Homo sapiens: one gene and its partners. The protein of the gene in region 1 purifies or fractionates together with the protein of each later gene. This does not show direct contact. Each region holds a gene or a part of one and is shown in the gene's direction. Other genes may lie near its edges.

Evidence for each region. The genes of interacting proteins can lie anywhere in the genome.
Region 2: the proteins of FLRT1 (region 1) and RADIL purify together in Homo sapiens (affinity purification with mass spectrometry; 2 studies listed by BioGRID and IntAct, with this or other methods). This does not show direct contact.
Region 3: the proteins of FLRT1 (region 1) and PCDH7 purify together in Homo sapiens (affinity purification with mass spectrometry; 2 studies listed by BioGRID and IntAct, with this or other methods). This does not show direct contact.

Annotation. Positions count from the first base shown.
Region 1 is NC_000011.10:64,031,877-64,039,007, forward strand, and holds the start of FLRT1 (leucine-rich repeat transmembrane protein FLRT1), read left to right. Parts: upstream 1-4,054; 5' UTR 4,055-4,283; intron 4,284-4,805; exon of another isoform or gene 4,806-4,899; intron 4,900-7,131.
Region 2 is NC_000007.14:4,873,681-4,880,864, reverse strand, and holds part of RADIL (ras-associating and dilute domain-containing protein), read left to right. Parts: intron 1-2,661; 5' UTR 2,662-2,725; coding exon 2,726-3,260; intron 3,261-7,184. UniProt on the Homo sapiens protein: Downstream effector of Rap required for cell adhesion and migration of neural crest precursors during development.
Region 3 is NC_000004.12:30,715,364-30,723,404, forward strand, and holds the start of PCDH7 (protocadherin-7 isoform d precursor), read left to right. Parts: upstream 1-5,005; 5' UTR 5,006-6,059; coding exon 6,060-8,041. Other genes in the region: uncharacterized protein LOC124900844, read right to left, coding at 1,978-2,544.

The DNA of each region.
Region 1 (7,131 bases):
TCCCGTAGTATACTGGGGCATCACTGGGGCCCCGAGCTAGGAGTCCACCCCTCCTTGGAGGTGATACCCAGGCTGGGGCCTGTGGGGAAGGCTGAGGCCAGGGTTGTGCCCTCTGAACATCTGCAATTTGTCCTTGCCTTGGTGCCAACCCCTGACCACTGCCCTGGGATGGCTTCATGCCTGGATGCCCAGCACAGAGCCTGGGGCTAAGGGTCCCTGATGATGACCACAGACCCCACCCCCCAGTGAGGAAGACCCTGTTCCTCCCTTGAGTCAAGTCACCTCCTTCCCCTGCCCCCAGCTGAGAACAGGCCCAAGTGAAGCCAGGGGTGGCCCAGCTTTAGTTGACCACAGTCTAATAATGGTGAGTCATATTGTATACTTTGTATACTTCACTGTATACGAAGCACTTTCCTCCTGGGACCTCACTGGACTCTCGCTAGCCCTGGGAGGTCTGAGATGGCCTTGTTAAGATAAGGAAATGGAGGCACAGCAAGGCTGGGATGGTGCCCAGGGCCGATGGCTGGTGAGTTGCAGGATGGCGAGCAGGACCCAGATTTAGGGGCTCCAGAGAGGGTAGATGGCAGCTGGAGAGGTAAGGATGCTTCGGGCAGGGCCAGGGTGACCTTGGCTGCCCGGTGGTAAGGCCCACCCCACCAGGCTGTGTGGGTTACTGCCCCTCTGGGAGCCGGGAAGCTGGGGCTTGGTGAGCTCAAGGTTGAACCTACAAATCATCGCCAGGTGACTTGAGCTGCCCTTGCGGCTGAGTGCATCCCCCATGAGTGCCCAGCAGGGACTAGCTCAGTCCTCCAGCCCAAGGCCACACTGCCTTTACCAGTCACCTGTGTCCTCCTGGAGCCCACAGCTCCCAGGGGCTCGGCAAGGGTTTGTTGACTGAACAGTGATCTTTCTGACTCTCAGAGCCCACTGTCCCCTTCCTGGAATGACACTCCCTCGTGGTGCCCTACTCCTTCCAAGATAAAGAAGAGGCACTCCAGGTTTGTCTAAGACCCTGCACACCCATCCTGGCTGACACCAGCCACCTCATCTTCCACTATCCGCCCCCCAGCTTCTGTCCCCCACTCTAACCAAGAATTCCTGAGCCTCAAAGCCAAGGCTGTTTCACGTCACAGCAACTGTGAGCTTCTGCTGTCTGCAAGAACATCCCTCCTGCCCCTCCAAGACCCAGGTCAAGAGGCACCTCCCTGAGGAAGCTGATGTCAAAATCGACTTGGCCCTCTGTCTTGGGGTCACGAGGTAATGCCTGCTTCAGCAAGATCTTGCTAAGCCATAACTGTCTAGGTGCCCAGCCCCCATGCTGGAATTTCAGCTTTGCCAGGGCGAGATCCAGCAGGGCCCGATTCACTTCTGGTCCCTGGTGCCCTAAACAGCACCTGGCACACAGTGGACTCCCAGCCATATCCCCCGAACTGTGCACAGCCACCAGGCATGGCTGAGCGGGTTATTCCATCAGCTTTGTGGAATATCGTGCAGCTGTTAAAACCACAATTATGAAGATGATTTTTGTTTGTTTTTTAGGGACAAGGTTGCCCAGGCTGGAGTGTAGTGGCACGATCATAGCTCACTGCAGCCTCAACCTCCTGGGCTCAAGTGATCCTCTCGCCTCAGCCTCCTGAGTAGCTGGGACTACAGGTGCCTAATTTTTTTTTTAAATTATTTTTTGCCGGGTGTGGTGGCTCACGTCTGTAATCCCAGCACTTTGGGAGGCCGAGTTGGGTGGATCACCTGAGGTCAGGAGCTTGAGACCAGCCTGGCCAACATAGTGAAACCCCGTCTCTGCTAAAAATACAAAAATTAGCCAGGCGTAGTGGTGCATTCCTGTAGTTCCAGCTACTCGGGAGGCTGAGGCAGGAGAATTGCTTGAACCTGGGAGGCAGAGGTTGCCATGAGCTGAGATCGTGCCATTGCACTCCAGCCTGGGCGACAAGAGTGAAACGCCGCCCCCCCAAAAAAATTATTATTTTTATTTTTTTGTATTTTTTTTATCTCAAACTCCTGGTCTCAAGCAATCATCCCACCACAGCCCCCCAAAGCTCTGGGATTACAGGTGTGAGCCACCATGGCTGGCTCGAAGATAACATTTTGATATCTAAGTGTGACATGTCAAACAGAGCTACAATCATACAATCCATTCCACTGCGAGGCATTGAGTGCCCGCGCTCTGTGCCAGCTCTGTGGCTTGGTGTGGGGGTGGCAGGGATAGAAAGGGGTCTCTCCTTCAAGACATTTAGTTCAGAAGAGGAGGAAGGCTTGAACATAATTCCTGAGCCACACGCCAAGTGCTGGGATGGAGGAATGACAGAGCCCCAGGGCCACACGTCCATCTGGGGGTCTGGGAAGGCGGGACGGAAACCACAGCTCTGTAAAAATTACAGCCGTCTCTGCATGGACAAGCCTGGAAGGGAGCAGAGGAACGGAAGCTGTTGACGCCACAGGGCGGTGGCATTGTGGGTGATTTTTCTTTCTTTTATTGTTGGTATAATGCTGTTTGGGCAATAAATAAAAATTGGGAGGAAAAAATAGCTGTTTGGTGAATTGAGTAGAAATTGGGAGAAAGAAGAAAGGGAGTTAAGGGGAGGGAAATTAGAAGGGTGAAGTGAGGAGGGAGAGGCAGGAAGGGCAAAGACAGGCGCATGCAGAGCGCACAGAGGCCAGAGGCGGCGGCCTCAGGCTAGGCCCCAGTCTGTTCCCGGACTGGGCGCAAGAGGGCTGGGTTTGCACAGGGAAAGGAGGGGGAGAGGTGCTGGAGTCTCTGTAGGGGGGACCCTCCCCAAGGGGATCTGGGAGGGCATCCCAGAGGGGAGGTGGCCCCCAGGCCTCGATGGACAGCAAAGAGCAGGGCCGGCAGAGGGGGTCCCAGCCAGACTGTGGGCGGTCTGAGGGTGGATCAGGAGCACTGGGGCCCTGGTGGGGGCTCTGGGCAGGCTTGGGACTCAGAGCAGCCACTGACAAGGTGATGAGGTCTGACCAGGGCAGGCCAGGCTGGGTATATGGGAGAGTCCCTTACTTAGTGTCCCAGCGAATGCCAAGAGCACGGGGACTTTCAGGCTAAGAGGAGGCTGTCTGGTCTAAACACTCCCTCACCCCACCCGGATGCCACCCACAGGCATGAACATCTTCCCAGTCTCTAATAGGTGCCAGGCACTGGGCCAGCCACCCTCCCATTCAAGGTCTTCTTCATCTCTCACAGTAACCTTTGGAGCTAGGTAGTAACGGTCCCATTTCACAATCCAGGACACTGAGGCTGGGAGAGGTTCAGCAACTTGGCCAAGGTCACAGTCAGCTGGGGATGGGAGGGGGCGCTGGCATGGGACCCTGGCACTGCCCCCTTAATAGGTGGGAGGGGTATTGCTGGGGAGCGCCCGGGTGTTTACAGCACGCGGCGGATGAGAGGGTCTGCCCAGGGAAGGGGCGCCAGGCAGGAAGGAAGGGGTTACTTTGGCATGCAGAGTAGGCGGTGGGTACCTGTTTGTGAATGAATGCACGGGTGGACGGATGAATGAATGAATGAATGAATGGATGGCTGGAGGGATGGTTGAATGAGTGGGTGCGGAGAGGAGGGTGCTGGGGAGGCGGCGCGTGAGCTAGAACCCCTTTCTCCCCCGCCTCCACGGTGGAGGTTGGCTTTGGGAGCCTCCCTCCCCCAACTCCCCAGAGGGGTCGGCTCCCCCACCCGCCCTTCCCCCAGCCAGTTTAGCCGAGGGCGGGGGAGGGGGGCGCGGAGGCCGCTTCTCCCCGGCTGGGCCAGAATCCCCGCGCGGCGGCGCAGCCTCCCGCGCCGGGTCCCGCCGGCCAGTGCGCAGCGCGGCGCCCCCGTCCTCCTCCCCCTCCCCTCCTCCTCCTCTCCCTCCCCGCTCCGCGCCTGCACGCACGGCCCCCGCCGCCGCCGCCGCGAGGGGAGAGGCGGCCGCACAGCCTGGTTCCCCGCGCCCTGCTCGCCGCCGCCGCTCGCGCGGGCACCGCCGCTGGTCCCCGCCCCGCCGCCGAGCGCACCCGCCCGGGCACACGCACCCCGCCGCTGGACGCACCCCCCGCACTCCTCCCGCGGCTCCGCCGGGCGCCCGAGCCGGGCAGATGCGCCGCCGCGCGCCCCCCGCTCCGGGCCCGCCACCGTGCTCTGCCGCGCGCCGGGGGCTCCTCTCCCGGGCCCCCCTGGGCGCCCTCCGGCTCTGGTTCCCGCCCGCTCCTTGGAATAACCCCTGAGGCTCCAGCCGTCACCGCAAAGTTTCCCGAGGAGACCCGCCTCCCCGGCCGCTGCGCAGGTAGGGCTGGCTGCACCGGGCGGGGGTCGGGGTCCGCGCGTCTGGGACAGGGCGCCAGAGCCGACGGGGCGGGGGCCGGGGGCCCGGGGGCACCGAAGCGCCACGGGGTCAGGCAGCCTGGCTTTGCCCCAGAGCGGCGGGAGATGGGACGCCCAGCCTTTGGGATTTGGGGTGGGGGTCCCTGAGTCAAGAGCCAAGCACCAGTAGCGGTGGCGCTGGCCCCGCCGCGGGGAGGCGCGGGGTGCGCGGCCGGCGGCTCAGCTCTCCCGAGCCGAGGCTGGAAAGGGCGGGGGCTCAGCTGGAGCTCTAGTCCAAGCCCTCGCTGCACCCCCCAGGGAGGGGGCCTGGCCCGTGGGGGGCGTCAGGCCGGTCATGTGGGTCCCAGCTCCCGCACTCGGGAACCGGAGGAGGGCGCGCGGCCAGGGACAGCCGGCCGGCCTGGGCGCCGCGCTCCCGTCCCCACCAGCCGCGTGAGTCACGGTTGGAGCGAGGTTTTATTTTTAAAACGACTTCAAGGGGGGCATGAGCAGCCTCCAACTTCCCTCCCTGTGCGCGCTGTGGACCGTCAGCCCTGAGCCGGGCGGGGGCTGGGGCCGTACACCTGGCGGCTGGAACGGTGAGACCATGGTGCCTGGGCGGGGGGCGGCGGGCACCCCCCATCCCCCAGCTCTCAAGACAAGGAGGCGGCCCGACCCGGCGGCGCACGCCCCTCCTCGCGGGCACTGGAGACCCCGGGGAGGAAGGCTGGGGAGTGTTGTCGCCCAGCTGCAGGGAACCGTGGTTGATCAGAGCTCCCCGAGGAGGAGAAAGTTGTGGAACAGGGACACCAGGGAGCTGCCACAGCCTTCCCGGTGGCCCCGGGAGGTCTTCGAGGCCCTCCAGGGTGGGCAGTTTTGAGAGAATACAGCCCAGCTGGGGTGTGCCAGGCCCCCGAGGCCCAAGCCAGAGCTCTGATGTGAATAAATACAGCCAAGGCTGGGGACGGAGGTGAGGGGTGACTGAGAACAGCCCTGCCTCACCGCGGCCCCTACGCCCTCGGGTTGGATGGAAACCAGCCCCTCCACATCCCCCTCCCCAGGTGGCTCAGGAGTTAGGAAGGAGGCTGTCTGTGGGGGGGACCCACGATGCCACTGTGGAGGGAGGTGGCTGAGGCACCCTGTCTCTGCCCGGCGGCCGCGGGGGAGGCAGCCGCCGCGCTCAGGGGCTCCAGATTCCAGTTTCTGGAGTTGAAAGCTACTGCATCTCTTCCGCCAGCCCCGGGAGGAGAGGCGCAGACATCACCTGTCAGCTGGTGCTGACTCCGTGGGCGACTGTTCAGGGCTTCCTCAGAAGGTTTAAAATGGAAATGGCCTGAGCTGACAGGGCCCGTGCCTGGGAGGGGACGCTGCCTAGCTGGGCCAGCAGTGAGGGGGCCCTGGTAGGTGTGAGGGGCAGGAAGAGCTGAGGGCTGTCACATATCTGGCTGAAGGGTCGGCCATGGGCACAGGGTGTGTGTGTGTGTGCGCACCCAGTCCCATGTTCTTTCCCAGACACAGAGACTGGATACTCTTCAGTAAAAAGCACCCTGACCCCAGCATGGAGGCTCCGTAGCCCACACCCCCAAGGCAGCTGTGGCCTGCTGGACTTCACCTAGACCTGGGTCTGTGCATCCGCACTCTACCATTTATTGGTCCCTCCACCTCCCTGTGCCTCAGTTTCCCTTGTTGGTAAAATGGGATTGATAGTGCCACCTCCTGAGCCTGAGCCAGGGTGCTGCTTTGTAAGTGCATTTGACGCATGTTGTTAGTGGTCCTGCTCCTGGACTGGAGGATTCTCAAGGGCTGAGGGTATCTGCAGGGACTTCAGAGGGTCGGGGGGTCGGATTTTCCCACCACCAGCCAGTGTGCTGTCACTGGACTTCATCCTCACGCTGGCCCTCAGTGGCAGCGCCCTGTGTCCCCTCCTCCCCATCTCCGAGGCCTCCCATGAAAGCCCCTGGGAGGTCCGCCCAGCTGTTTCTAAGGAGGTGATGGGGAGGGGGTGCTGCCATCCCACTGGTCACCCACTGCCAGAGGTGTACAGACTTAGCTCTGTAGAGATTCATGCCTGGTGGCTGAGCCTGTGTCGCATTCACTGGGTGACCCTGGGCCTGCAGCCTCCCCTCTGGGACCGGCTTCCTTGCCTGCGCAGGGGTTTACAGCAGTTGTCCCACAGAGAGGATGTCTGGGTGTTCTGCGTGTGGGTGCAGGGAAGGGCAGTGCACACATGAGCAGGTGGCATCTGTGCTTGCTTCGAAGTTAGCTGAGAGGACTAGGGCTCCAGGTGGCCTTGACCCTGCGGGTGTTGAGGGACGGAGAGGTGGGTGTAGAGCCCAGAGGCCAGCACGGGGGCAGCTGTCAAGTGGCTGCTCTGGTGCAGGGGGAGGATGAGGCCTCCAGGATCTAGCTGGGCACAGCCACCTCTGCCCAGTCATGGGGCTAGCAGCCCCCTCCCCAGCCAGCCAGACATCCCCAGAATCAGGGCTGGACATGGCCTGATCTCAGAGATGGGGCCTGTATGGGACTGTGTGGGTCTGGCTGTGCTGGCCCTTCTGCTCTAGAGTCTGGAAATGATATCAACCACCTAGTCATCCCTGTTGATTGTGTTCCTGGGACACTAGAATGCCATCACAGGGTCCTAAGGACTTTCGGTTCCTGGGGAGGGTTTCTCTACCTGGCCTGCTAACCTTCGGCAAGTGACCCGTCTTCCTCATCTGTAGGGTGGGGTAACAGCAGTACCTACCTTGGGGAGGCACCCACGTTGAGAGGATGCGTATGAGGTTTCTAGCAGAGTTCATGCCTAGCAATGTGGGGCCCTTGCCTAGTCTACA
Region 2 (7,184 bases), on another chromosome or scaffold:
TTGGCCTTTTAAATACTTGGCTCTGCTTCATGACTTTTCTGTGATATGGGCTTTCTCCTGCCTGGAGGGGGCTTCCCCAGTTTTTGGTATCGTATTTATATCAGCATTCAGACTTCATCTCCGGAGGCAGAGGTTTCCTGAGCCACAGCTGCCTGGTGGCAGAGGCTGTACCATCCACCACCTGCACTTTGCCTTTGCACCCTGGGGAACCCGTTGGAAATGAGCACTATGAAAAGGTGGTGGCCGACCCTCTGCCAGTGTGTGCTGCCTGGAGGCTTCTAAGCCTGGGGCATCTGGAGAGGTGCTTTGGAGCAGGGTTGTGCAGCTCTCATGGATGGTTAATAAGTGCCGGCTGGAGAGGCTCTTTGAGGGGTTTTGTTCTGTGATTCCAAGTACTCACTTTGAAAACTGACCACAGGAGACTGAGGTCAGACTAGAGGGCGATTGGAAGCCGCTGGTGTGGTGTGCACAGGCCAGGCCGCACGTTTGTGATGTGAGCACTGTCTGAAAATGCTTTTGTTGTAAATGAAACCGAGGCCTTTGATGAGTCCGTGGGGGAAGCTGCGGCCGGCTCTGAGCTTCTTAGGATTTGACAAGGCCACTCGTTGCACCTTCCTCAGAGGAAGAGAAACAAAGGCTTTGCTCCTTTACTCCTTTATGGCCTGGCTCGATGGAACCTCAAGGCTCCATCTGCTTATGACCTGTACTGGGAACTCCGTGACCTGTTACAGCAAATTCACCTCTTCAGAAAGCCAGGCACAGCGAAAGCCTTTGCCGTGGTGAAGTGTCCGCAGTGGGCTATAGGAACAGGAGAAGGGCCAGCCACCCACCCCGCAGGGCAGACGTCCGCGTTGGGAACCCAGTCTCTGGTGTGCGAAGCTGTCGGAAGTATTTCTGAAGAGTTCAAGGTCCTCGGAGAAAGCACAGCTGCTGGCTGACCTGGGCTGGTTCTGGAGGAAGCGAGTGGTGGTCTGATTTCAGGACTCACCCATGACAGCTCTGGCGGGCAGTGAGAGGCTCCAGAGAAGATGACCCACGCCCCGGTGATATTAGAAAGAGGCCAGTTCGCAGTGTCAGCTTTGGAGGCTGGGGCGGTTCCACTGTTTAGTTTCCTAAGGGACAGTGTGGCTCCTTTTCTTTGGAGGGGTTCCCTGGTTGCTTTCTGTGGCCCTAGGCAGCCACCGTCCTTTCCAGAAGCCTTTTGCAGCGCCCGCAGCGTGACGAGTGAGTCAAGCCTGGACAGTGACAGTTGGCTGCTGCGGTGTTTAGTACTGACCCCGGTCGCAGTGGCAGGCGACCCGTGCTGTGTTCACTGGGACCTGGACCACTCTTTCCAGAGCTTTCCAGAAAATAGGCTTTCCTCCTGGCTCACTCGTCTGCCACCTTTGTCTTTGGTGAGAACATGAGCACGGAAGTGGGGTACAGTAATGGGGAGATGTGTGCGCAGTTTTCCAGTATTTTCCTGCCTTGCAGTCCAGCCTCACCTTTTCCAAATCGGAGACCTGCCTTCCTTTTTCTCTGCCCTCCTGCCCCCACAGAGGTTCTGGAGGGAGACTGAGAAACCATCTGGAACTCCTGGCCCTGGGCACGCTACGGACATTAGAAGTGTGATTGTATGACACGCCAACGCGTCCCAGGCTGTTTTCCCGTTTCCCCAGGAGACTGCATCTCTGTGGCCTGGAGCGCCGGGCACCCGCGGCCTGTGGTGGGCGGGACGCCTGCATTCCGGCCATGCCTGCACCGGCTCGAGAGGGGCCCTTTGTGCCCGCCGTGCTTGCGAGGCCACTCAGTGCTGCCATCCCAGGGAGTATCTCCTTCAAGCCAGGACGGGTCTCTTGCCCTGAGGGGTAGATTCTGGGGGTTTGTGTCTGGAATGTCTGATGGTCTATTCTGCCAACGTGGCTGCGATTCGCCTGTTTTCCTGGTTGCACTGTGTTTGTGACCCATTTCCCACGTCGCAGCCTGTGGGGTAGGAGACACGAGGTTTACGGAGAGGCGAAGCTTTGCCCTTGGGCTGCCCGCTGCTCTTCTGTGGCTGTGATGGTGCTGGGGCCGGCTCCGGGTGGGGCGCTCCTTGATGCTCACTGCACACGGGCGCTGCGCCCAGCACTTTCCAGAAATCCAAGCCCTGCAGCGGAGCGTGTCTTACTTAGGCGACCTCATTGTGTTTCCCAGTAATGGCTTTCCTTGAAGGGCGCTCCAGCCCGTTTAGTCCTCTCGGTCTCTGGTGGCCCTGCAGGCTCCAGCCACATCCTCTGCTCAGGTGCTCTGGTGTCAGGTCTGCGGGGCCAGGATGCCCACGGCCTGTTATGTCCATTAGATTTTGAGATGGGGTCTTGCTCTGCTGCCCGGGCTGGAGGGCCGTGGCACTATCATAGCTCACTGCAATCTTGAACTCCTGGGCTCAAGCCATCCTCCAGCCTCAGCCTTCAGAGCAGTGGGTACAGTGCACACCACCATGCCTGGCTAATTTTTAAATTTTTTGTAGAGCCGGGGCCTTACTATGTTTCCCAGGCTGGTCTGGAACTCCCGGGCTCAAGCCGTCCTCCCACCTTGGCCTTCTAAAGCGCTGGGATGACGGGCAGGAGTCACCGCCTGTGGCCTCATTTGCTCTTGGTGGTCACGATGGTTGGCGCTAACCTCTCTCACTTTTTCACCCAGGTCACGGCCTCCCCACATCCTTTGGCTGAAGCCCACAGTCCTCATCCATGAAGCCTCACCCACCATGTTTTATGGGACGCACTTCATCATGTCCCCGCCCACCAAGAGCAAACTGAAGCGGCAGAGCCAGCTGTTGTCCAGCATGCTGTCCCGGACGCTGAGCTACAAGTACCGGGACCTGGACTCCACCTTCTCCAGCCTGGGCGCCAGCGATGACCCCGCCGAGCTCTCCACCCAGCTGTCGGCCCCTGGTGTCCTGAAGGTGTTTGGGGACAGTGTCTGCACAGGAACCCACTACAAGAGCGTCCTGGCCACCGGCACCTCCAGCGCCCGTGAGCTGGTGAAGGAGGCGCTGGAGCGGTACGCCCTGGACCCCAGGCAGGCCGGCCAGTACGTGCTGTGTGACGTGGTGGGCCAAGCCGGCGATGCTGGGCAGCGGTGGCAGGCCCGGTGCTTTCGGGTGTTTGGGGACAGTGAGAAGCCCCTCTTGATCCAGGAATTATGGAAACCCCGAGAAGGTTTATCCCGGAGGTTTGAGCTGAGGAAGAGGTCGGACGTGGAGGAGCTGGCAGCCAAGGAGGTGGACACCATCACGGCAGGTGAGGGGGGCCACAGGTTCAGGAAGAGCCGTGGGTCTGAGCGCTGAGAAGGCCAGCCGAGGTAGGCGGAGAAGGAGTGGTGCAGGGGACATGCGTGGGGCGGGCTCGCTCTGCAGGAGGCAGTCGGAGCCCGTGTCCTGGATGTTTGAAGCCTTCCTCTTTTGTTCTCTGAGACAGGGTCTTGCTCTGTCACCCAGGCTGGAGTGCAGTGGTGCAACCACAGCTCACTGCAGCCTCCTGGGCTCAAGCGATCCTCCCACCTCAGCCTCCTGAGTAGCTAGGACTATAGGTGCACCACCACACCCAGCTAATTTTTTACTTTTTGTAGAGACAGGAGTCTCGCTGTGATACCCAGGATAGTCTTGACCTCCTGCCCTCAAGCGATCCTCCTACTTTGGCCTCCCAAAGGTTTCCTCTTAAACTCACCACTTTCACCTCAGCTGTCTGGGAAGTTGTAGTTTGTCTACGCAGCAGGAGGCTGGCTGGTGTTCCTCAGAGGCTCCTGATATATTCTTGCAATATTTGAGGCCACATCTGTTCTTTTGTCTGATCAGATTATTGTCCAGCTCTCCAGCAGTCATCTCATTGACCATAGCAACCACGCACGCCTTGTTAAATACAGGGTCCCTCCAAGTCCTTTAGCACCTGCGACCTTGTCGGGGAGTTTTTGGGGCAATGAAGTGAAAAGACAATCAAGGAATCTGTCCCAGGCCAAAACCTACGTGGCATTGCCGGGTTGCAAGGTCTCCAGAGGTGACCACGGTGCACTCAGCGTACCGCGGGTCTGTGGGTGCCTGGGTGGTGGGAGGCCTTCCTGAGGAGGGCCTGGCCACGGGCAGCCGATCATTGTCGGTCTGAGGAGTGCCGAGAGCACGGGTGGCGTTGAGTGCCTGCCGCAGAGTTTGAGAGCCCCGGGGCCTGGGGCCCACTGTGTCTGGTGATTTATTCAATTGGTGGAAAGAAGTTGATTATCTTAATAGGTGTGTGTCATAAAAAATAATTTTGGCCAGGCGCGGTGGCTCACACCTGTAATCCCAGCACTTTGGGAGGCCAACGCAGGTGGATCACCTGAGGTCAGGAGTTGGAGACCAGCCTGGCCAACATGGTGAAACCCCGTATCTACTAAAAATACAAAAATTAGCCGGGCGTGGTGGCAGGCGCCTGTAATCCCAGCTACTCAGGAGGCTCAGGCAGGAGAATCGCTTGAACCTGGGAGGCGGAGGTTGCAGTGAGCCGAGATCATGCCATTGCTCTCCAGCCTGGGCAACAAGAACGAAACTCAGTCTCAAATATAAATAAATAAATAAAATAAATTTGGCCGGGTGTGGTGGCTCACACCTGTAATCTCAACACTTTGAGAGGCCAAGGTAGGAGGATCGCTTGAGCCTAGGAGTTTGAGAGCAGCCTGGGTAACATAGTGAGGCCCCATCTCTACAAAAAATAAAAAAATTAGCCAGGCATGGTGGTGCATACCTATGGTCCCAGCTCCTCAGGAGGCTGAGGTGGGAAGATGGCTTGAGCCGCAGATGCTGCAGCCAGGATTGTACCACTGCACTCTAGCCCAGGCAACAGAGTGAGACCCTGTCTCAAAAAAATAACAATAAAAAGAGTAACTTGTGGTTGCTTTAATTATGGCTCTTAAAGTCTGCTCAGACAAGCACCCCCAATTGCCTGCACCTGGGGATCCTTCCTCCACCCAGAGGTCGCCACTTCTGGGATTTGGTTTTCATCCTGACCCTGCCATGTCACGATCCAGTGGTCCCTTGGAAGGACCGGTGATCCGGTGGCAGAGATGGGGTCCCTCCCCTCCTGATTCAAAAAGACCTCCTGTGAGGCCAGGAAACCCGAAAGGGAGGAGGCGCATGGTGGGATGTTTTCTGCACGGGAACAAAGGCTCTTCAATGTCAGACACAGAATTTCGGTCATTCTTCCACCATGCGTTGCCTCTGCCAAGCAGCGGGCAAAAAGCGAGTGGGACAGGGCCACCTTGGGGCTGCAGAGCACGGGCCAGGGTTGCTGCTGTGTGGCTGGGGATCAGCCTGGCCTGTCCTCAGGCCATTGCGTTGTGTGTCACCGGGCGAGGAGGAGCCCTGGGAAGGCCCGCCGTCTTCACAGGTGATAGGCGACTGCCAGTGTAGGATGGTGGGGCCAGAGTGCATGTTGCAGGAGACAGGAGCTTGTCTGAGGCTCACGTGCTTCTTTTTTTTTTTTTGAGATGGAGTCTCTCTCTGTCGCCCAGGCTGGAGTGCAATGGCATGATCTCAGCTCACTGCAACCTCTGCCTCCCAGGTTCAAACGATTCTCCTGCCTCAGCCTCCTGAATAGCTGGGATTACGGCATGCACCACCACCACGCCCGGCTAATTTTGTTGTTGTTGTTGTTGTTGTTGTTGTTGTTGTTGTTGTTGTTGTTGGAGATGGAGTCTCGCTCTGTCGCCCAGGCTGGAGTGCAGTGGCACAATCTCGGCTCACTGCAAGCTCCGCCTCCCGGGTTCACGCCATTCTCCTGCCTCAGCCTCCCGAGTAGCTGGGACTACAGGCGCCCGCCACCACGCCCGGCTAATTTTTTGTATTTTTAGTAGACACGGGGTTTCACCGTGTTAGCCAGGATGGTCTCCATCTCCTGACCTTGTGATCCGCCCGCCTCGGCCTCCCAAAGTGCTGGGATTACAGGCGTGAGCCACCGCGCCCGGCCAATTTTTGTATTTTTAGTAGAGATGGGGTTTCACCATGTTGGCCAGGCTGGTCTCGAACTCCGGACCTCAGGTGATCTGCCCACCTTGGCCTCCTAAAGTGCTGGGATGACAGGTGTGAGCCACCACACCCGGCCAAGCTCATGCACTTCTTTTGGAATCATTCCTGTTAAATTATTCAGGGCGAGCGAAAGCACCCCTGCTCACAGCCTGTCTAAGCTCGTGGCGGTTTTCGAAACCTGCCAAAGAGAGTCCATCAGGCTGCCCAGCCATACTGACACACTCATCTGGGCTGGAGCAGGTTGTGTTACCTACCCAGAGCTGGCCCCCTGGGCCTCGGGCACTCATCCTTCCTTGCTGACCTTCTCTGGCTGTGGCCCAGGGACTCCTGTGACCCTCAGCCATGCCAAGAAGGTTCACTGAGGCGGCCGGGTGGTTTGAGATGGAGCAGCTGGTAGAGGCATGCACACATGCTTCTGCTCATTACAGAACGGTTATTGAGCCTCTGCCTGGAGCCGGGGGAAGGCTAGACCCAGGGGGTCCCCACGTGGATAAGCCAGGCTCCGCTGGGGATGACCCCGCACAGACCTTACTGTAGCTGGACAGCCCTGCCTCAAACAGGCCCGCGCCCAGAAGCTTTGCGCTAGAGTGTGTTCGGTTGTTGTGGTGACACATGGGTACCTGGACAGAGAAATGTCCACACAGGTGCTCACACACACAGTCTCCCACTTGGAACTGTTCCCTGCGTGAGACACCTGCACGGCCTTTCCGTGGGTTGGAGGCGGCCTCTGTGCACATCCCTGGAACCCGCCTCTGAGAGGTCTCTCCTGCTGGCTTGGAGGCACGGAACGGGGAGGGCACTGAGCCTTTGCTGTGTCCCACGTCCCCCTGAGTGAGTTTGCAGCCGGCACTAGGCGATTCCTCCCTCGCCCCTCCAAGGGGAACGACTGAGAGCCAGAGAAGGGGAGGAGGTGGGAAGCCGAGGGGTTTTTCACTGTAGCAGCTTCTCCAGCAGCCGTGGGCGCCAGCCTGCCTCAGGTTGGAGTGACGTGGAAGAATCGTGGTGGGGAGGCTTTCCTAACACCCACCGTGTCCTCTCCATTACATACCTCCGGTGATGGTGAGCTCTGCGCCTTCCAGCAGCCCGCCTGTCCTGCGCCTCCCTGGGCACCGATGGGGCTGCTGTGGTGTCTGTTTGTCCTGAGAGTGGCCCTCAGTGTGGGGCATGTGTC
Region 3 (8,041 bases), on another chromosome or scaffold:
GATCTTTTTATGTGTGTCATGACTTGTAAATCTCTGCTATATTGCACATATTTTGGCATGTAAACCTTTAGAAAATGAATAAAAAATCAACTGTCAATATGTGCTAAACTTAAGGTAAAAATCATTTATTCTGTGTTATTTTAAAACCTAAAACACTCTATTGAAATCTGAAAACCAGACAGCGTGTGAGCTAATAAACACTTAAAATTTTATTTTTCAAAGCTTCTTCTTTTTTTTTTTTTTTTTGTAAATGAGATTTTCATATCGGCCTTGTGGAAATGTTTATAGTTATCCAGTAGATAGTATGAATCAACTTAGTTTAGTTTCTGTGTGCTTCTTTTATAGATACACTGTAAAATATAGCTTTGCATATGATTTCTTGATTTAAACAGCACAACTTATTCTATGTCTTGGCTAGAAACCAATTAAATAACCACTGATGCAAGCAGTTATTACCTGCTTAAAAGGAAATCTGTGGTTTCCTTATTTAAACTGATGAGTTTTAATGTCTATCAAAAAGGCTGTTATTGCAATGAATAATTTAGTCATTTCAGTCTACTAAACATGTTAATACTACAAGCATGGATTTAAGGCTGTAAAATATATCTAAAGTTTCTCAGAGTCTCAAGGATCAGAATCATACTTGGAATAGTTATGCACAGATATGTTTACTCTTTCAAGTAATATATGTTTAAAGGACAATCGTTTGTAGTAATTATTTAGAAAAGGAAGACTGAAGTATCAAATTTAGCGAAAGGGGTTAGAGAAATGGTTGATCATAAAGGCCTAGAAAACACGTCTACAGATAGAAGACCCTTTTTAAAAAGATGAAAGGTCAATGGATTTAGAGATATCCGAGTGTCATTTCCTCTGTTTGTCCCTTGGTGGAGTTCTTGAGTTACTTTCTCCTTTTCTGTCAAACTGTTTTTATCTTTCCAGAACTGGCTATCGTGTTTACTGTATTTAACCTTTTTCTCATATTATTGTGAATACAGCGTCTATTATAAATGAAAGGCCCCCTGAGATCACATCTCCAGCATCTACTTTGTATTCTTAACCATAAACTTTTGTTGTAGTTACTTCTCTTACTGTCTTTTCTTGAGGCTTGAACTACATCAGGGACCCTGAATGCTATTTTTCAGTTCAGCCACTGAAATTTCTTAACGGCAAAACAGGTTTAAGCAAGCGAGGTTAGTAGGTAAATTAAAAAAAAAAAATCTACTGAATATTTTAAGTTTAGGGTAAGATTTCTGGCACAGAAAATGAATCGTTTGTCAAGGTTTTATTAAATGCATATTAGCACGGGATGATATTTATATTTTAATCAATTTCATTTTTTACATCTTGATTTCAAAGGGGTATTTCCTTTTATTGTTCTTTTTTAAAAAGCCACTAAAGAAAAAACAGAAATCTCCATTTCAACATTCCCTCAAACATTTTGCTTCCTACATGCGATGACGTCTAATCACTCTGATCGATGCAAGCTTTAGGGCACTGATCTCATTTTCTCTCTCCAGTTCTGGCCGCCAAAGCAGCAGCAGCAGCAGCAGCAGCAGCAGCAGCAGCAGGCTCTTTAATTTATTGCAGGCGGTTACACTTTCGATCCCATTTCCTTCTGAACCCTTTCCTCTCAGGTTGAGTAGATAAATGCAGCCTCGGGTCTGAGAAGCCGGGGGGGGGGGGGGGGGGGGGTTGGTGGGTGGGAGCGAAGCCGGATATCACATTCCCTCGGTGAGGTCTGGTACCGGGGGGGATTAAGTCTCCCGGTTCCATTTAATGAAATTGCTGAGCACTTGTGACACTGGCTCTAAGACTGCGGAAATGGGGCGGGGGTGGGAGAAACTGCTTCTCTCTTCATTCATCCTCTGCGCCGGCGAGAGGAGAGAGTGTCAGCCCCTAGAGAGGGGGCGGAAGAGGACTGGGAGCTCCAGCCGCCGCAAGGGCGCCCCGAGGGCTCCTCTCACCTCCCCCGTACCCCTACCCCGCCCATTTCCTTTGCTTGCCCAGAACGGCGCTGCAGGGCAAAGCCGCCGCCACTTCTTTGCTGCTCTGGCAGAAAGGTCGGAGCCTGGGACTGATGGGGGTGGGAGCAAAGCCAGCAGGCTTCTTGGCCCCCGCAGTCTGTCCTCGCTGTTCTCCATGCAGCACACGTCGGACCCATTTCCCACGCTGGCTTGGCTCCGCCGCGAAGTTGGTAGGAATGAGAGTGAGGAGGGCGGGCTGGAGACTTCCTCCCGCTCGCAAAGAGGAAACCACTCCACTGTGAAGGACGCGCTGCAACTCCCTAGTCATCCGGGAAGAAATGTGCAGCGCGCTGAGGAAAAGCCGCCCACTCCTTCGCGCCCCGCTCAAGTGTGCGCCTGGAGAGTGCGCGCCAGAGCCGCGAGCAAATGCTTTGAAGATGCGGAGAGGCTTATTCAAGTTTATGGTCTGGAGAGGGAAGAGGGAGTGCACAACGTTTCTGCCCAAGCGGCTGCCTGAAGTTTGCAAAATCTTAGTAAGGCGATGAGGGGAGTGAGTGCACTGCACCATATTGCCGCGCATCGGAATGCACGGCGCAAGGCCGCGGAGTGGAGACGGCTTCTCCCATTTGCCTCCAACCTGGGAAAAAGGGGAACCAGGGTCGGAGGTTTGGAGAGAGGCAGGCGTTCCGATAAACCCGGGTTCTTGCCAAATGTAAGAGGGATTTGGCTTTACTGCCACTTAGCCGGCCGCGAAGGCGCTGCGGAGCCCACCCCCGCCCCCGGCTCGAGACTGCGGCGGTGCGCACTGAGCCTGCGCGCGGGGCTTTTCTCGCTGATGCTGCAGATACAGAGCTGAGAGGTTCGGGTGCCAGCAGCGGGAGGGTTAGCGGGAAGGCCGGGTTCCCTGCCCTGGCCTCGGAGGAGGAGCCACCACCCCTGGGGTGATGCTACTTTCACAGACTGGAAAATACTCGCCAGCTCCCTGACACACACTTAGACACACTTCCATCCAACGGGCATCTACGATCCCCTGTAGGGAGAGCTTGGAAATCTCTGCCGCCTCTCCCTCCTCATTCCTGTTCCTGCGCCCGCCCAAACAACCGCGCGCTACATCTGCTCGTTGACTTTATTGGTGTTTGTCTTGTTTAAATCATTCTGCCTCGTCACCCAGGTCTCGTAAAGAATACCCACACTGGACAGATTTTATTTTTTCGGCTTTAAATTTTTCTTTGAGGGGAGGCCCTTAAATGTGTATGGATACGTCAGGCGAGCTGAAGACTAAGCAAATCCCAGCAGCGGCCCTTTCTCTCTTTCGAGATGGTAAAAATTCTCCCCAAATACCTACAGTCCGTCTCAGTCGTCTTAATCCTAGCCGGGCCTCTTCGTTTACAGCCACTGAAATAAATGAGTAAATGGCTCAGTTCAAAAACACAACCAGACCTGAGATCTGATGAGGCCGGCTGCGGTGGTCGTGAATGAAAATTGGAGAAGCCTTGCTTCAGGAAATAGGGACAGTCAAGGGACACAAAGTCAAAAGGAGAGATGGGAAAGCTGGGGACACTTTGGTACACAAAGTTGCCATTAAAGTTTATTTCCCTTTTATCCAGATAGGTGACGCTACACTTTGCCAGTTACTAAAGGCTGCAGGTTTCTGCTCAGAAAATAATATCGAGGTTTCCAACATGTGTTTATTCCCCAGGCGCGCACACACGGTCTACCCCCGCAAGCAAGCACGACGACAGGAATGTCAAGCATTTAAACAAAGACAGACATCCTTCACCCTCCACCCACCGCCGCCCCTGCCCCCCGCAACCATCCAAAGTCTGAGCTCCCAAAAAAGGATCTTTCTCCAGCTCTCTGGAGTTTGATGTTCTCTCTTCACTACTGCAGCCCGTCATGGTTTTTCAGAACAGAGTGGCTTTCTGGGCGCTCGTAGGTTCCCCAGGACCCCGATAACCATGTCCTAACCAAGATCCTAAATCGCGAACCGGAGACACTTTCCGGGGGGAGGAGGACGTCGTCTGAGAGGGAGGGAGAAGGAGAAACCTATCCTGACACCAGCTCCGAAAGCTCTCACGCGTGAACTGGGCATTAGTCAAGGGAGGAGGAAATTTACCAGCCCGAGGGAGGGAAAACAAGTCCCCCAGAGAAGACGGCGGTACTCGCTAGGGAGGGGGACTGGGCTTTGGCTTAAAGAGGACTGGCTGGGATTGGGCACACTTTGAGCGGCCCCTGGAGCTGAGGCTGGGCTTTCCCGAGCGCGGCGGCTGGCTGACGCTCCCTCCCGCCTCCTTATCCCGGGCCCTCCTCCCTCGCTCTCTCCTAGTGTGTAGTTTCGGCGGCTCGGCTGCTACTGCCGCCGCCGCTGCAGCAGCAGCGTCAGGGACAAGCCTGATCCGTGAGCGAGCGAGCACCCAGCAGCAACCACCACTTTGGGCAACTTGCGGGTTTCCTGCTCGCGGGTAGCGAACGGGAGATTCCCACTAGCGGTTCAGTGTCTCCGAGCCGCTGCAGCCCGAGGGGCGGCGGGAGCGCCCGCACCAGACTCTCCCAGACGCGAAAAGGGACGAGACAACTGCGGAATTCACCAGCCGTGCCAGGGCACTTCCGAGGCCACAACCGACTGACACTTTTTCTCCCCTTGGCAAACTGGATTTTTTTTTTTAAGCTACTTGGCAGCTGTCTCTGACTCCACCTCCCCCTCCACCCCCGCCCGAAAGCCTTTGGCTTTTCTTCGGAAATCCAGACAGAATTGGGCATCTTTGTTAATTGCCGTTGGGGACGCCCGGCCGTGCGCTTTCGCCGGCTAACGTCGCCTGTGCTCCGAGCCTGGTTTGCTCACCTTTGAACTGCAAAGGGATCAAGTTCAGCTTGAGTTCCCTGCATTGGGAAGGAGAGAGAGCGTGCAAGAGAGCGAGTGGGAGAGGGGGAAAGGGGAAAGGAGAGGAGGGAGGAGAGAGAGGAGGGAGGAGAGAGAAAGGGAGGGAGGGAGGGGAGGGATCGAGAGAGAGCGGGGAGAGAGAGGCTGCAATCTCCTCCCTGAATCGCGCACAGCGCTGCAGATCCCACTGCTCCGACATGCGGGCCGAATGCAGGTGAGAAAAGGCACGGACTCTGCGGCTGCGAACCCAAACTTGGGCACCGCACGGTGCGCACTGCTCAGCCTTCGCCCCCGTGGGCGAAAGGCTGCTGCGGTTTCAGGCGGCTGCTTCGTGACTAATGACCTTGCGCAGAGTTGTTAAGAAAAAAGAGAAACCCGCGCTCTCCGGGGTGAGAAGGGACTGACTCTGGGCGTCTCTGAAGATGGCTCGGGCTTCTCTTTGGCGCGCCGGGGGGACCCTGACACTGACCGCTCTGTGACGCGAGTAGTCTCCCCTGCACCGTGCCCGAAGCGACGTGCCGGGGGATTTTTCATTCTCGATCTGTTGACTGGCTCCCCCGCTGCATGAGCAGAGTCGGAGTTGAGACTGGCTTGTTGCTGGCCCCAGCGCCTGGTGCAGGAAGCGACTCACGTTTGTCTGGGTGGCCGGAGCCGGAGCAGAGCCTGGGTTTGGAGTGAGTGCCTGGAACGTGAATTGGACTCAACTCGAGTAGCAGCAAAGACCAGCGGGCTGGCAGGCGGGGGAGGCTGCAGGCTCATTCCCCACCTCTTCCCAGCCCCACTGCCCGTCTGCCGGAGCGGTTCTGGCCCCTTCCGACAGAGCGGGGACTAGAGCCGGGGATTCTCCGCCCGCTGAGGGGATGACTCTGGGTTGGGGGAGCGCCGAACCCGCGGCGCGCAGTGTCCCGTGAACTGTGAGTACTGCGACTGAACGGCGGCAGGCGAGCGGGCGATTAGCACCCATTGCATGAATTATGAAACAATAACTTTCGGAAGAAGCAGGAGGAAAAAAAGAAGCATCTATCGCTGCCCTCCCACCCCCATTCCCGGCCAACTCTCCACGCCGCTTTTGCCCCCTCCCTCCCCTCCCTCTCGCTCCTTCCTTTCCGGGAGAGGGGAGAGGACTCGGGGGAGGGCAGGCGGCCGGCCCCGGAGGAGGGGGGCGCCGAGGGGGCTGTGGTTAGAAGGAGCAGTAGCAGCAGCAGCAGGAGAAGATGCTGAGGATGCGGACCGCGGGATGGGCGCGCGGCTGGTGCTTGGGCTGCTGCCTCCTCCTGCCGCTCTCGCTCAGCCTGGCGGCCGCCAAGCAGCTCCTCCGGTACCGGCTGGCCGAGGAGGGCCCCGCCGACGTCCGCATCGGCAACGTGGCTTCAGACCTGGGCATCGTGACCGGATCGGGTGAGGTGACTTTCAGCCTGGAGTCCGGTTCCGAGTACCTGAAGATCGACAACCTCACTGGCGAGCTGAGCACGAGCGAGCGGCGCATCGACCGCGAGAAGCTGCCCCAGTGTCAGATGATCTTCGACGAGAACGAGTGCTTCCTGGACTTCGAGGTGTCGGTGATCGGGCCCTCGCAGAGCTGGGTGGACCTGTTTGAGGGTCAGGTCATCGTGCTTGACATCAACGACAACACGCCCACCTTCCCGTCGCCCGTGCTCACGCTCACGGTGGAGGAGAATCGGCCGGTGGGCACACTTTACCTGCTGCCCACAGCCACCGACCGCGACTTCGGCCGCAACGGCATCGAGCGCTACGAGCTGCTCCAGGAGCCCGGAGGCGGCGGCAGCGGCGGCGAGAGCCGGCGCGCCGGGGCGGCCGACAGCGCCCCCTACCCCGGGGGCGGCGGGAACGGCGCGAGCGGCGGCGGCTCGGGAGGCTCCAAGCGGCGGCTGGACGCATCAGAGGGCGGCGGCGGCACCAACCCCGGCGGCCGCAGCAGCGTGTTCGAGCTGCAGGTGGCGGACACCCCGGACGGCGAGAAGCAGCCGCAGCTGATCGTGAAGGGGGCGCTGGACCGCGAGCAGCGCGACTCCTACGAGCTGACCCTGCGAGTGCGCGACGGCGGCGACCCGCCTCGCTCCTCGCAGGCCATCCTACGGGTCCTCATCACCGACGTGAACGACAACAGCCCCCGCTTCGAGAAGAGCGTGTACGAGGCCGACTTGGCTGAGAACAGCGCCCCGGGGACCCCCATCCTGCAACTGCGCGCAGCCGACTTGGACGTGGGGGTCAACGGGCAGATCGAATACGTGTTCGGGGCGGCCACCGAGTCGGTGAGGCGGCTGCTGCGCCTTGACGAGACGTCCGGCTGGCTCAGCGTCCTGCACCGGATCGACCGCGAGGAGGTGAACCAGCTGCGCTTCACGGTCATGGCCCGCGACCGCGGGCAGCCCCCCAAGACCGACAAGGCCACCGTGGTCCTTAACATCAAAGACGAGAACGACAACGTGCCGTCCATTGAAATCCGCAAGATTGGGCGCATCCCCCTCAAGGACGGGGTGGCCAACGTGGCCGAGGACGTTCTGGTCGACACCCCCATCGCTCTGGTGCAGGTGTCCGACCGAGACCAAGGCGAGAACGGGGTGGTCACCTGCACCGTGGTGGGCGACGTGCCCTTCCAGCTCAAGCCAGCCAGCGACACCGAGGGCGACCAGAACAAGAAAAAGTACTTCTTGCACACCTCGACCCCTCTGGACTATGAGGCCACCCGGGAGTTCAACGTGGTCATCGTGGCGGTGGACTCAGGCAGCCCCAGCCTCTCGAGCAACAACTCCCTGATTGTCAAGGTGGGAGACACCAACGACAACCCGCCCATGTTCGGCCAGTCGGTGGTGGAGGTTTACTTCCCTGAGAACAACATCCCGGGCGAGAGGGTGGCCACGGTGCTGGCGACAGACGCAGACAGCGGTAAGAACGCCGAGATCGCCTACTCGCTGGACTCCTCTGTGATGGGGATCTTTGCCATCGATCCCGATTCTGGGGACATCCTGGTCAATACCGTGCTGGACCGCGAGCAGACTGACAGGTATGAGTTTAAAGTTAACGCCAAAGACAAAGGCATCCCCGTGCTGCAGGGCAGCACTACGGTGATTGTGCAGGTGGCTGATAAAAATGACAATGACCCTAAGTTTATGCAGGACGTCTTCACCTTTTATGTGAAAGAAAACTTGCAGCCCAACAGCCCTGTGGGGATGGT